Linked DNA regions of Homo sapiens. The protein of the gene in region 1 purifies or fractionates together with the protein of each later gene. This does not show direct contact. Each region holds a gene or a part of one and is shown on either strand. Other genes may lie near its edges.

The links. The genes of interacting proteins can lie anywhere in the genome.
Region 2: the proteins of TMEM87A (region 1) and UBR3 purify together in Homo sapiens (co-immunoprecipitation; 2 studies listed by BioGRID and IntAct, with this or other methods). This does not show direct contact.

Annotation. Positions count from the first base shown.
Region 1 is NC_000015.10:42,270,407-42,277,737, reverse strand, and holds the start of TMEM87A (transmembrane protein 87A isoform 1 precursor), read left to right. Parts: upstream 1-4,304; 5' UTR 4,305-4,339; coding exon 4,340-4,483; exon of another isoform or gene 4,484-4,537; intron 4,538-4,672; exon of another isoform or gene 4,673-4,849; intron 4,850-5,614; coding exon 5,615-5,675; intron 5,676-7,331. Other genes in the region: GANC (neutral alpha-glucosidase C), read right to left, coding at 1,328-1,390, 3,228-3,256. UniProt on the Homo sapiens protein: Potential monoatomic ion channel gated by mechanical force, implicated in normal touch sensitivity through the generation of mechanically activated currents.
Region 2 is NC_000002.12:169,949,448-169,956,474, reverse strand, and holds part of UBR3 (E3 ubiquitin-protein ligase UBR3), read right to left. Parts: intron 6,871-7,027; coding exon 6,410-6,870; intron 1-6,409. UniProt on the Homo sapiens protein: E3 ubiquitin-protein ligase which is a component of the N-end rule pathway. Does not bind to proteins bearing specific N-terminal residues that are destabilizing according to the N-end rule, leading to their ubiquitination and subsequent degradation.

The DNA of each region.
Region 1 (7,331 bases):
TCCCAGCTAGTCGGGAGGCTGAGGCAGAAGAATCGCTTGAACCCAGGAGGTGGAGGTTGTGGTGGGCAGTGATTGCGCCACTGCACTCCAGCCTGGGTGACAGAGGGAGACTCCGTCTCAAAAAAATGCATAAAAATAAAATAAAATGAAGATTTTAAAGGCATATTTTTTGTAGCTCTGGAGAAACAGGCAATCTTTTTTTTTTTTTAGACGGAGTTTCACTCTTGTTGCCCAGGCTGGAGTGCAATGGCACAATCTCGGCTCACCACAATCTCTGCCTCCCAGGTTCAAGCAATTCTCCTGCCTCAGCCTCCCAAGTAGCTGGGATTACAGGCATGCGCCACCATGCCTGGCTAATTTTGTATTTTTAGTAGAGACGGGGTTTCTGCATGTTGGTCAGGCTGGTCTCAAACTCCCAACCTCAGGTGATCCGCCTGCCTTGGCCTCCCGAAGTGCTGGGATTACAGGTGTGAGCCACCTCGCCCAGCCAGGCAATCTTATATAATGTTGATAGGAGTACAAATGGTATAATTCCTATGGAGGGAAATCTGGTAATAGTTAACACATTTCAAATGCATTTACTCTTTGACCCAGTAATCTCACTCCTAGAAAGGTATCCTATAAATACACCTGCATGTGTAGAAAATGACCTATGTATAGCTCTTCATTGTGGTAGTGCTATTTTAGCAAAAGATTAAAAACAACCCAAGGGTCTAGCAATAAGAGACAGACTGAATAAATTATATTAATAGTATATCTACCCCATGGAATATTATGCAGCTGTAAAAAGGAGAAACAATCTCCATGCACTCATATGAATTTCTCCTCAGAACAAACTATAAAGCAGGAAAAAAAACCTATTTGGTATAAAAAGGGGTGATTAAAAAAAGAGAAAAGCAATAATATAAAAATACATGTATTTACAAAAAAATACTGGAAGGATAAATAAGAAATGAAGAAATTCGGTTATTCGGGACAAGATGAGGAATGGGTAGAAGGGGACAGGAGTGGAAGCAACATTTTTCAATGTATAGCTCTTTATATTATTTTTGAACCATGTAAAAGTGTTATCTATTCAAAGCGTCAAAATTTAAAACTAGTTTAAAAATATTTTGGCTTTTAAAATAAAATAGCTGTTTATTGAAAAATTTAAATACTTCAGGAGTAAATGTATAAAGTTAAAAGTGAGTCTCCTGTCTGATGATTTCCTTAATTATTAAATTATCCTTTCCTTGGAAAGTCTATCAGTTCCAAAAATTTAATAAGCATCAATTTTGAAATACTGTCAGAGATGTTTTGATCTAGCTACTATATTTATTTTCCTTACCTGTAAAATGCGATCTTGTTACAGTCTCTGAAAATGTTTTTATCTACAGCTTCATCTTCAAGACTAAATAAAAAGACATTTTGAGAAATTTATTTCACACAGGGCTTGTGAATCCAACTTTTGTACCTTCTCTAACGACAGTATGAACATGCAAAATAAACCTTTGGAGTCTATTCTGCAATGCAAAATTGTGTCACGGCCACAGTATAACATAATAGCACATTATGTTGCAGAACAATAGCCTTTTGTAAACCCTCTGAGGTAAACAACAAAACATCAGGTTCTGGGATTACTCCAAAAGTAATGGGAAAAGATCACTGTCACTTATGAGGACATATTCTTTTGAAATAATGACTGAAGGCTATGACCACAAAAGTAAAATCTGAAGGAGGAAAACCAAAACAGCATCCCAAAACGAACAAACCAAAACCAACCAACCAGACAAACTAAGAACCATAACCCACCCACCGATTTATTCAAGAAAATATTTTCAGAATATTCTTCCTGAGAGCTGGGCTCTGAGGAAGATATGAACTGTGTTCAAGCTATCAGTTAGGGTTTTACCAGCAATCACAATACAAGCTGACAAATGCTTTAATAGAGGTGCAAGGTGCTAGAATAAGAACAGAACAGACGTAGAAGGGGAATTTCTTGCTTTTTAAGATGAGGTGACAAACTAGGGGCCATGTTTTTTAAAACCAAGTTTCCAGAAGAGCTGTTTCTGGGATAAAACATGAATGAGATATATGTATATTGAAGTTTGAGTATATGTATTTAAACTAGCCTCCATCTGATTAAAACAACTACAGATTATAAGGAGAAAAAAAAATTACACCGGCTTTCATGCACTAGTGTGGCCGAATGCATCTGTAGTCAGCATGTCCATGATTATGTAGAAAGCTATGACTGAACACAAACGTCGAAATATTATGAAAACAAGCCCAGGCAGATATACTTGGCCATACTAAAAAACTGTTTGTCCTTCACTGAACTCAGTCTTTGTCCGTTTATTTTAATTTATTAAAAAAATTTTTTTTGAGACAGGATCTCGCTCTGCCTCCTACGTTGGAGTGAAGTGGCACGATCTTGGCTTGCTGCAACTGCCGCCTCCTGGGCTCAGGCTATCTTCCTGCCTCAGCCTCCTGAGTAGCTGGGACTACAGGCCCACATCACCACGTCTGGCTAACTTTAAAATTTTTGTAGAGACAGGGATTCAGCATGTTGCCCAGGCTGGTCTGAACTCCTGGGTTCAAGCAATCTGCCCACCTATAGGCCTCCCAAAGTGCTGGGATTACAGGCATGAGCGAACCGGCCCAGTTTATTTTAATCAAGTGTACAAAGATTGGAGAATCTTTTGTTTCCTCTTTACAGCTTCGAAGAATTAACTCTGGGATGATATAGGAAGGGGTGATTATAGATGAATTTGGAAAGCAACATGCCTGAAATTCACGTGTTAAGAGTTCTGATTGCAACTTTTCCACTGTTAATGTTATTTAACCATCCTTTTTTTTTGGAGACAGGGTCTCACTTTGTTGCCCAAGCAGTGGCAAGATCACAGCTCCACTGCAGCCTCCAAATCCATCCTCCCAGTGGTCTCCCAAGTAGCTGGGACTCCGAGGGGGCGGGGAGGGGGTCTCGAACTCCTGAACTCAAGCGATCCTCCCACCTTAGCCTCCCAAAGTGCTGTGGGATTACCTGCGTGAGCCACTGCACCCGGCCTATTTAACCATCCTGAAAGTATTTTATGAGAGGCTATTAATATCAACTAACTTCCCGCGAATTGAGAGAAAAGATAAAGGTCAGCAAATACCAAATACGCAAATAAGAAATGCAATTAAAACACTATTCCCTGTTTCTAGGGACCCTGGGGTCACTCGCTACAGAAGCACTTGGCCTTTACCTTATTTCCTCTTTCACTGCTGCTTCCATGGCTTCTCTGTCACTCCGACCAGCTCCCAGCTCTCAGGACAAGGGCCCTGGGCGATCTTTTAAAAAAGCCGATTGGGTGTCTTTCTAAAATTACAACCAGTACTTCATCGTCAAGTTTCTGGGAAGGGAGTCCCCTCCAGATTCTCATGGAGTGACAAATCTTGACTCTTGCTCCTGGAATTTTTCAGGCCCAAACTAGCGTTTCTACAATGATTTATTTGGCAAATTTGTCTTGATTATGGGTGGCTGATGAGGAACGTGCTTTTGTTAGGAACCGAAACTGGGCGGCGGTGAGGGCGTGTACGCAATGAGTCCTAGAGGGTAAAAATCAAGAGCGTTAAGAACCTGGAAATGCCGAGACGGCCTCCCTGACTGGGACGAAGCATCTGCAGATCTATCTCAGTGGCGGGGTCACGCCACAGATTTTGAAAACTGACCCTCTCTGTCTCCGTTTTCGGTTAAGGGTGGGAAGTGCCGGCCGGGTCTTTGCTGGAGGCTAGGTCTCCAGCCAGATTGTACTGCAGCATCGTACTCTTCAGGGCTAGAAGGGGCCTTTGAAGGTTGTTACACTACCCAGTCTAGGAATCGCGTGTACTCCACCACCGCCGAATTCCAGCCTTTGCTTAAATACCACCCAAACCGGAGAACTCACTACTAGACGCCACTTGGGCAGCCAGGCTTAGGGCTTTTCCAGACTTTCTGGCCCCAAAGTCTGACATTGACTTAGAAGGGATGAAGGGCTGGGGCGAGCGGAAGTAGAGAGCCAAATCCTGCACGGGGTGCCTGCCTGGTCCTAAAACCTTTAACGGCTGGGAGACAGAAAAGACTCAGGCCAGGCTGGCATGTAGCGATCTCTCTAACCCAGCTGACCAGGTTCCAACAGGATGACGCCTGCGCAGTAGGTCCAAAGTCTCACGGCGCACAGACGACTGTCTGAGAGAGGGGCCGCTACGCCGCACAGCAAACAAGCTCCGCGACGTTTCCAGGACCCGGATAATCCCGCCCTTAGAGCAGAGCCGGAAGAAGGCGGGACGAACCGGAAGAGGGTGAAATGCTTTCGGTAGGCACTCCACGGCTGTGAAGATGGCGGCGGCTGCGTGGCTTCAGGTGTTGCCTGTCATTCTTCTGCTTCTGGGAGCTCACCCGTCACCACTGTCGTTTTTCAGTGCGGGACCGGCAACCGTAGCTGCTGCCGACCGGTCCAAATGGCACATTCCGATACCGTCGGTGAGTATTCACTTCACTAACGTCTGAACCTAGAGGAGCAAGGGGTGGGGCTACGGCGGCCCAAGGGGTCCATGAAGGTTCCGCAAAAGTCTCTTCAAAAGGGGTGGGGTTGCTGGGATGGTCTGTGTGGCTAGCCAACTGGGACCCACCTCCCTGGAGTGGAAAGCCGCGCACTTCTGTGATTAGGCTAGCGGGAATGTAAGGGCCACTTCAGCAACAGAAAGGAGTGGTGGAGCGGCTTCTCATCAGAAAAACAGAACTTTCAGTGCCTGACTTGAGATGTAAACTTGATGTACAAACGGAGAGTTGTTTATCTTTCAGATGTTTCACAGAATCCAGTGTCCCCGGGTTGGATAAGAAAGATATGTAAATAGGAGTCTTCATTTCTTTCTTTCTTTTTCTTCCTCTGCACTTCTTGGTCCCTGGGTAATTCTGCTTACGAGATGGTTCGACTTCGCTTCAACTTTGGAATGGCTATTCTAAGCTTTACTGTGTGACTAGAAAGCATAGAGATTTAAGAAATGTGTTTTAACATGGGAATGGTTAAAATTGAAGAAATAGTACTTAAAATTTAATGTGGTAAGGCTAGTCTTTCATTTGGATAATTAACTACATGGGTTGACCCTTTCTGCCCCTTACCCATTTTAAACCTTATTTCAGTAACAGGTATAGTCCTGTGAGCAGACAAAAACCAGATGCAGGGAGGAAATGCTGAAAAGCATTAGCCCCATTAAACCTACGTTGGCCTTTTTGTTTCATTCTGCTCTGCTCACTGACTGTAATGTCCAAATCTTATTTGGGCTTTTATTATGGTAAACGTTATACCTTTTGTTCAGTGGTGAAGATTTTCAGGTGTTCAGTTAGGTTTTTACTTGTTACTAAAATGGTTAATAGTTAAGTCTTTTTAGATTTGAAAATAAAACTCTGGTTATTTGCACACAGAATAGTTCATTAGAAAAAATGATTGGTTATTCTGAGCAGTGATTGGTGAGTAAAGGGAATGAACTGATTAAGGGGTACGTCCCATAAAGATTTAAGTTAAGTTGGAATTTCTAGCAGTCTTAGATAGTTATATGATGCTTTGGTAATTGAAGCCATCTGAGGCTAATTATCTTTCCTTTATGTTTGCAGGGGAAAAATTATTTTAGTTTTGGAAAGATCCTCTTCAGAAATACCACTATCTTCCTGAAGTGTGAGTTTTTGAATTTCATGAAGTTTTAATTTGAATTTTAAAAATTTATAGGTAATGTTTTAAATTACCTATTTTATAAGTTCTGAAATCTAATAGTCTGGCATTATCTAGGTATAAATATTTTTAGTATTACTAAGGTCCTTTTACTGAATCATCTTCAAAGTACTCGTGTGAACTTTATTTTCTTCTCTTGTTTTTCTGGTGTTTACATTGCATATATACACTATGTAGACATTATATATTAGTATATATAATGTATATATTAATATATATGCTGTATATACTACATTGAATATTCAGTCACATCTCAGTCGAATTACATTTACAGTTGATACTTTCTGAGAAAAGCATCCTTAGGTGATTTTGTCATTATGCAAACATCATAGAGTATACTTAAAACTGGATGGCACTACACGCCTAGTTTGTATGGTACAGCCTATTGCTCCTAGGCTATAAACCTGTATAACATGTTACTGTACTGAATGCTATAGGTGGTTGTAACACAATGGTAAGTTTTTGTATATCTAAACATAGGAAAGTAGAGTACAAATACGATATTACAATTTTATGGGACCCCCGTTGTATATGTAGTCTTTCATTTACTGAAATGTTATGTAGTGAATGACTGTGATTATGTTGGGGTTGATTCCCTGCATGGTGGTTTTAATCTGTTCTGTGTAGATTAAAGAGGTTTTACTCTTGTGTGCTTGTTAAATGTTTACTGCAAACATGACCTAGGTTTGTCAGGCCGTTGGCTGTGAAGGAATATATTTAGTAGATCCTTTATTTACAAAAGGAGTATTTTACTGCTTTGGAAGAGGAAGCTCAGATATTATCAAGAAATAGGGATTATGTAGAACAAAACTAGTTTGTCTAGTGGAAAAATGACTGTATCTGAATCTAAAGTATCCCATTGTGTGTTCAGTAAAAGCTTCCTTTTAGTTCTGAAACCGGCTTTAATTTAGAGAACGATTGATCGTGGGCAGCTTTATTTCTAGATGAGGGATAAAAATCCTGATGATAGATGTGTGATTCTATGCATACTGTCTTCACGGAAGTGCAAAATTTTAAGTCATAGTTGGATAATTTTATTCTTTTCAATTGTTTAGTGAGTAATTATTACTTATTGCATAGACTGTGGGGAAGTAATAGAAAAATGTTCTTCCCTCATCGAGCTTACATTCTAGTGGGAGTGAAAACAGCAGGTAGAATTTCTCTGAAGAATATATACTGTATCCATGAATATGTAATCAGTCTCCTGACCAGTGACTTATATTTGATTTAGATCAAATCTACTCTGACACTGGCCTTGTGAGATTGGTTTACTGGGTAACCTAGTAACCCTTGTCTTTTGGAATAGCTTGACAGCCTGTTTGCTGTTTTATTCTTTTATTAGGTCCAGTCTTTTTTTCTCGTGTAGTTTGATCTAGTGGTGTTTTGCCAAGTTAAACCAACTGCATTTTTTTTAAGATGGTGTCTCACTCTGTCACCCAGACTGGAGTGCAGTGGTACGATCTTGGCTTACTGCAACCTCCACCTCCCAGGTTCAAGCGATTCTCCTGCCTCAGCCTCCCGAGTAGCTGGGATTACAGGCATGAGTCTCTATGCCCAGCCCTAACTGCGTATTTTGAAGTGTTTATATTTCATTGTTTTTGG
Region 2 (7,027 bases), on another chromosome or scaffold:
ATTTCAAAAAATTAAATCTACCCATCCCCTCTCTTCCCTTTCTGAACATGTCCTAGCACAGAGTGTCAGGACTCGACAACCTGGCACGGGAGGGCATTTGTATGGTAAAAGATTAGAAGAAAGTGGTTATATATAAGGGAGTTGATTTTTAAAAAAGTTATATATATATATATAACATTTTAGTTAAATATATGTAATTTTTAACTAAAAAAGTTAAATATATCTATCCAGATAGATAGATACACAGATAGAGAGAGAGAGAGAGAGAGAGTTATAGGTGTCAGGTATCTCACTGCAGAAGTAGAGAGTTACAGAGTTACTCTGGAAACTGAGAAAGAGAGAAAACAAGAATGACTCCTAGAGGGATGGATTGGAATTGAAAGTATCAGAGTGAACTCACAGTTTTCAGTACATAAAGTCAGACATAAAACTAAATATAAATTTCTCCCTTCCTCTCTCACACTACCTTCCAACACAAACACAGACAAACAAAGAAACACACACACAATTTTCCCCAGCTCTGTCCTAAGAGGGCCTGAGACAGCTATACTTCATTAGAATAAACACATGGACTGGGGTTTCTAAATACCATTCTCTCCTAAAAGCAACCAGGACTCCTTGGAGAAATGGCTGACTCCAAGTACAGGATAAGCCTGCAACATCTTTTTTTTTTTTTTTTTTGAGATGGAGTCTCACTCTATGGCCCAAGCTGGAGTGCAGTGGCACGATCTAAGGTCACTGCAACCTCTGCCTCCCAGGTTCAAGCAATTCTCATGCTTCAGCCTCTTGAGTAGCCGGGATTACAGGCACGCACCACCATGCCCAACTAATTTTTGTATTTTTAGTAGAGACAGGGTTTCTCCACATTGGCCAGGCTGATCTCGAACTCCTGACCTCAGGTGATCTGCCCGCCTCAGCCTCCCAAAGTGCTGGGATTACAGGTGTGAGTCACGACACCTGGCCAAGCCTGGAACATCTTATTGCCCCAGAAAATAGGAATATGCTCAAAGAATGATGGGAATAGATCAAAAGGACCCGGAAACCAGCTTGACATGACTCCTAGTGGCCAAATCTGTAATAATTTGAGCACCAAAATTAATAACAAGCATATGAGATTATAACCCATAAAATAAAATAGGAACCCATGAGTCCACACTGATAAAAATAAATGAATATAAAGTTGATATGAATTGGGATATTACAATATCTCATAGTATCTCTCCACAAATTACGTATTAATTGTAAAGTGGGGTGGGAAAGGTAATTTGACTGTGAAGAAGTCTGGCAGACATGATCAAAGTTAATCACCAGTGATGAAACAAATTGAAATCATATAACAGCTTGTGGGATACAATGAAAAGAAAACAGCAACACTTCATTTACATTCCTGCCAAAGTTGTATAAACTGAGTCAAAACATAAAGGGAAAACAGACAATCCCAAATTAAGGGATATTCTACAATGTTACTACTGCTTCATAATCTTTAAAAGTGCCAAGGTTATGAAAACAAAAACTTCCATATTGAAGGAGAACAAAGAGGCATGACAACTAAATGCAAGGAGTGATTATGAACTGGATCTTTCTGCTATAAGAAATATTACTGGCTGGGCACAGTGCCTCACGCCTGTAATCCCAGCACTTTGGGATGCCGAGACGGGTGGATCACAAGGTCAGGAGTTCAAGACCAGCCTGGCCAACATGGTGAAACCCTGTCTCTACTAAAAATACAAAAATTAGCCGGGCATGGTGGCAAGCACCTGTAATCCCAGCTACTCGGGAGGCTGAGGCAGAGAACTGTTTGAACCTAGGAGGCAGAGGTTGCAGTGAGCTGAGATCGCGCCACTGCTCTCCAGCCTGGGTGACAGAAAGAGACTCTGTCTCAAAAACGAAAAAAAAAAAAAAAAGGTAAGTAACAAAAGAAATATTATTGGGGGCTAGGAGCAGCGGCTCATGCCTGTTATCACACCACTTTGTGGGGCTGAGGCGGGGGGATCACTTGAGCCCAGGAGTTTGAGACCAGCCTGGGCAACATAGCAAGACCTCATCTCTACAAATAATTTTTAAAAATTAGCCAGGCATGGTGGCACACACCTGTAGTCCCAGCTGTTCAGGAGGCTGAGGCGGGAGAATCACTTGAGCCTAGGAGGTCAAGGCTGCAGTGAGCCGTGATCATACCACTATACTCCAGCCTGAGTGACAGAGCAAGACCCTGTCTCAAAGAAAAGAAAAGAAATGAATTAAGAAGAGAAGACAAGACAAGACAAGACAAGACAAGACAAGACAAGACAAGACAAGACAAGACAAGACAAATCAAACATTATTGGGACAACTATCAAAACTTGGGATCTAAATCATACTCAAATACCACTATCAATCTGCTAATTCTGATAGTTGAGGGTACAAAGAACTTCCTGAACCATTTATGTAAGTTTAAGATTACTTCAAAATAAAAAGCTTTTTAAAATTAAATCCATCCTCAAAGGACAAATATTTGCCACAATGGAAGAAATGGAAGCAAAGAAAAATGTGCTCTAGATGCTCAAAGCACTCTAAGTGACCTCCAAAAATGCTATGAGCAACAACAGCATTGACAGACTACATTTTTGGTCTTCTGAATCACTAGTTCGTAAATCTGTAAGTTTTGCCATACTTCTTTAATTAATGCCACTCACTCTACAGCTCACCTTTAAACATGTACACTTACAATTAGAATACATATGTCCATAGAGTGTACTTTTTAAAAATCTATTAAACATAAGAAAACCTCAAATGTAACTGCTTGACACTAATACTAAAATGCATTTCTATAGCAGGTTTCTATACTAACCAGAAATGGGATGTCATTGTTGTGAATGTTTTCTTAATCGAGATTATTGCTTTTCTAAATGGGCATAAATGTAAATAAAGGCCATTAACAAGAACATATACAAGTTCTGGCAGATTCAGGACAACTCAAAAATTTTCCATTAACTCCTGGGTTAAAGACATTGAAGCTGCATTTTATTACAACCATCTAATGTTTTCTGCTTGCATCTTGTTTTCTATTAAGTTAATCTATTATGAAAGTGATGCTGAGTTTGTCTAAAGGTGAAGTACTTGGAAATGGATCCTCATTAAGTGTTTATGAACTGTTCTGCCTTTATTATGAAAATCCAAAACGAAACCAGAGGAAAGACAAATGTGAGAAGCACGGTGAGATCCAAATAGAGTCATCTTAATCCTTAGCTGTCTGCTACAAAATTAGTTTCAAGTCCTTGTCAATACCATCATTGTTCAAAGAAAACAAAACCTATCACAAAGAAAGCCTTTAAAATTTTTAGAATATTATTTATTACAATAGCATCAGGGCCTTTGTAAAAGCAGCATCTAAACTATGTCCTCCAGTATCACATTATTAGTAATAATTACAAAATTCCCTTAATCAAGAAAAACAGATTTTGATTCACTGTTTATCTTCTTTCAAAATAAAAGGATATACTATTATATAACAGAAAGAAGGATCTGACCACTAAGAGAGACCACTAATTAACAAAAATAACAATCTTACCTCATTTTCAACCTTCTAATTTTGTCAGTAGATTTATTACATTCTAGGCTATTACTAATTCAAACTTAATGAATGGTCATCTGAATTATATGTTACTGAATGTCCTTTCTCCCACGGAAACAAATTTTGTGTTAGTTCTTTATAACTCCAATTTAGGAATTCTCCTAAATTCTTAATCTACCATAAGCTTTTGCATATATTAATATAAATTTTTTATAACAAACTTTTTTTTTTGAGATGGAGTCTCATTCTGTCGCCAGGCTGGAGTGCAGCAGCGCGATCTCAGCTCACTGCAACCTCTGTCTCCCAGGTTCAAGCAATTCTCCTGCCTCAGCCTCCCTAGTAGCTGGGACTACAGGCACACGCCACCACGCCCAGCTAATTTTTATGTTTTTAGTAGAGACGAGGTTTCACCATGTTGGCCAGGATGGTCTTGATCTCCTGACCTTGTGATCCACTCACCTCGGCCTCCCAACAAACTTTTAATTACATCAGAGATGTAGTGTAACTATATATGTGACTAAAATTGCTCCTTATACAGGTACCAACGGATGACCTCCTAACTAACAAATCAAATAGGATGGCCAATCTTATTGAACTCCTGTAGCACTTAACAATTTTGATAAGTTTCTTGCTTTCTGAACTTCCTCTTGTGACTTCTCTAATGCCACTCACCCCAGTTTTTCTCTTACTCTGCTCAGCCATCCCTTCGTCAGTCACCTTTGTAGGTACCCCTTCCTCAGTCATTCCCTTTAATGTTTTTCCCTTAAGTTCTACATTCAGTCTTCTCATTTTCTTACTGTAAACCTTCTCCCATATACAAGGATTTACTACTACCTAGCTGCTCAAATCTGTAGCTCTAAGAATTCTCCCTTAAGTTTTAAACCCTATATCTGACTGGACACCTTCACCTGGGTGTCCCTCTTAAACTTAGTAGCGTCCAGAACTGAACAGATCACTTTTACTAATGAGCCTGGGACCCCTCCTACACTCCATTATCTTGGTAAAAGGAACATTATTCAAGTCAGAAATCAGGGCACCATTCAAGACATCTCCCTCATTTCTCACATCAACCTGATGACTGAGTCTAACAACTTGTACCTGCTAAATATCTCATACACATCTCCTCCTCTCTTTATTATCATCACTGTCTTAGTTCAGACCCTTACCACACCTGCCCCACTAGATGACTAAGTAGCTTGCTCTCCCAATTTCCAGTCTTACCCCACTCTAATCTACCCTCATGTAATTACCCTATATATTATTCCTCACTTAAAATCCTTCCACAGTTTCCCTGTAACCATTTATACCCTGTGCGAGTTAACGATACATGGTTACCTTCTTAGCCTTATGTCCTACTACTCCCATTAACACCCTGTGTACCTAAGATAGTATCTGTTACACTATGTTAACACTACTAACAAACTATCTGTTTACCAGTCTGTCTCTCCATTATAGTATCAATTCCTCGAGGTCAGGAAGTCCAACACCAGACACAGATATGTCTAGAAAACTGCTTGACTGACACCCAATGAATGAGAAACGGATCAATCAAGTAAGATCCATCTTAGGCTTGCTTCCACTGATCATTTAACCCATAACTGCCTATATTTAATTTTAAAAGTAACTAAGAAGATGAAATTATCCAGAAAATACCTCTAAAGTACACTTCAAACTGCTAAATAATGTATTAGTCATACTGCTCACAACAGTAGTCCAGATAACTCTGTTGACAATGATTTTTACCTATATAAAACAGATTGAGATGATAAAGGTCCTAGGTTCTTAAATTAAGATAATATTGATGTGATCTCTTTGGACCCTCCCTAACGGGAAATGTGTACCCTTCCCCTATAATTGTTGCTTTGGTAGACAAATTTGTCTTAAATAATAAAGAAATTAAAACAATGAATATTATTTATAACCTCAGAGAAGTGAGCAATGACTATCTTGAATTTGATCTGAAATCTTTTTTTTAAATGTCCTGGGTCTTTTAGCCTGTGTACACTCATTAGAAGGCATGCTCTTTTTTTTTTTCTTTAATAAACACTGAACCCTTTCCAAGAGTTTGACAATTATGCAGAGTTTCAATCTCTCAAGATTCACCTTGTCATGTTTATGACAGCAGGGTCAGCAATGTTGACAAGGCTCTTGGGAAACAATTTGTGACAATGCACAGTAACACAACTCTTCTGGCAAACAATGTACCACTAAAAAAAAGAACCAAACCATGCTCATAGTCCTTGACCCACAAACCCCACATAACATAGTATATATCTTGAGATTTTAAAAAAATCCCATTTTTTTTTCAAGAAAGTCAAAAGATGAAAAAAAAGTTTATAAATATAATTTAACAACAAATTATAAGCAACCTAAAGATCCAAAAGCTAGAAGCATAAGTTAGTCAGAATGTGTTTTAAAACATCACTTTTTAAAAATCAGCAATCATATATTAATAAAGATTAGAAAAGACCAAAAGAAACTAAAGCAGTTGGATTTTTATTTTGAGAAATATTTTAAATATTTTTAATATTCTCATTTAAAGCTGAACAGTTCAACTTTAACAGTAAGAGAATTATTAGATCCCTACAGCAATAAAAGCAGTAGCAATTTTTCCAAAGAGACACACAGGTTTAAGGTAGTAATTTTACATTGGGGTCAGAAAGTCTCACCTGTCCATCAATAAACTCAATACATCACATGTACAAGCACTGACTATGCTCCATTCCATTTATGTTACAAACTAATCAGCTATGACTGTTCCTGTTAAACATCCAGGTGATTATCCTCAAATGACCAAAAGGAAGAAAATATCAAATTTTCAACTATACACACGTTTAAAACATTAAAAATAAAAATTACCTTTCTTCTTTGTCCAATGTTTTCTTCTCTGCTGCAGTGACTTTTTTAGGTGGTACAGGAGGGGTCACTTTTCTACATATCTCTTCAATGATGCGTTTGTTCATTCTACTTTGCGATGCAGCTTTTAGTAAAATTCTTTCCACGGCAGTTATACCATCTCCATGACTGTATTTAGGAATTTCTGGTTGGATTAAAATTTCTATGTCATCAAGCCAAGGAGGATAGTAGGAGTTTTGTTTTCCTGAGAGTTTGTGGTGAAGTTTAATTAGCAAAGACAATATGCTTTCTTTAATTTCCAAAATGGCTGTAGTTAACTGTGGAGCTGAACCAGGAGCAGACCATTTACTTGAAGTTTTGGGACGAACCACCTGATTTGCTTCACTGCTACTGCGATTGATGATTTCCTGAAATTTCTTTCTACGTTCTGCTACTAAACTGAAAACTTGAGCTGTACCAGAATTCTACCATTAACAAAGAGAAACAAAGAAAAATCAAGAGAAGTTATTTAGCATCATTTTAAAAACATATTAGTACTATATTTTCTAAAGGGAATGCTCAGTTTCATACAAAGATTTATTCAATAGATTTGCTCTTTAAATAAATTTCTCCCTTGACCTC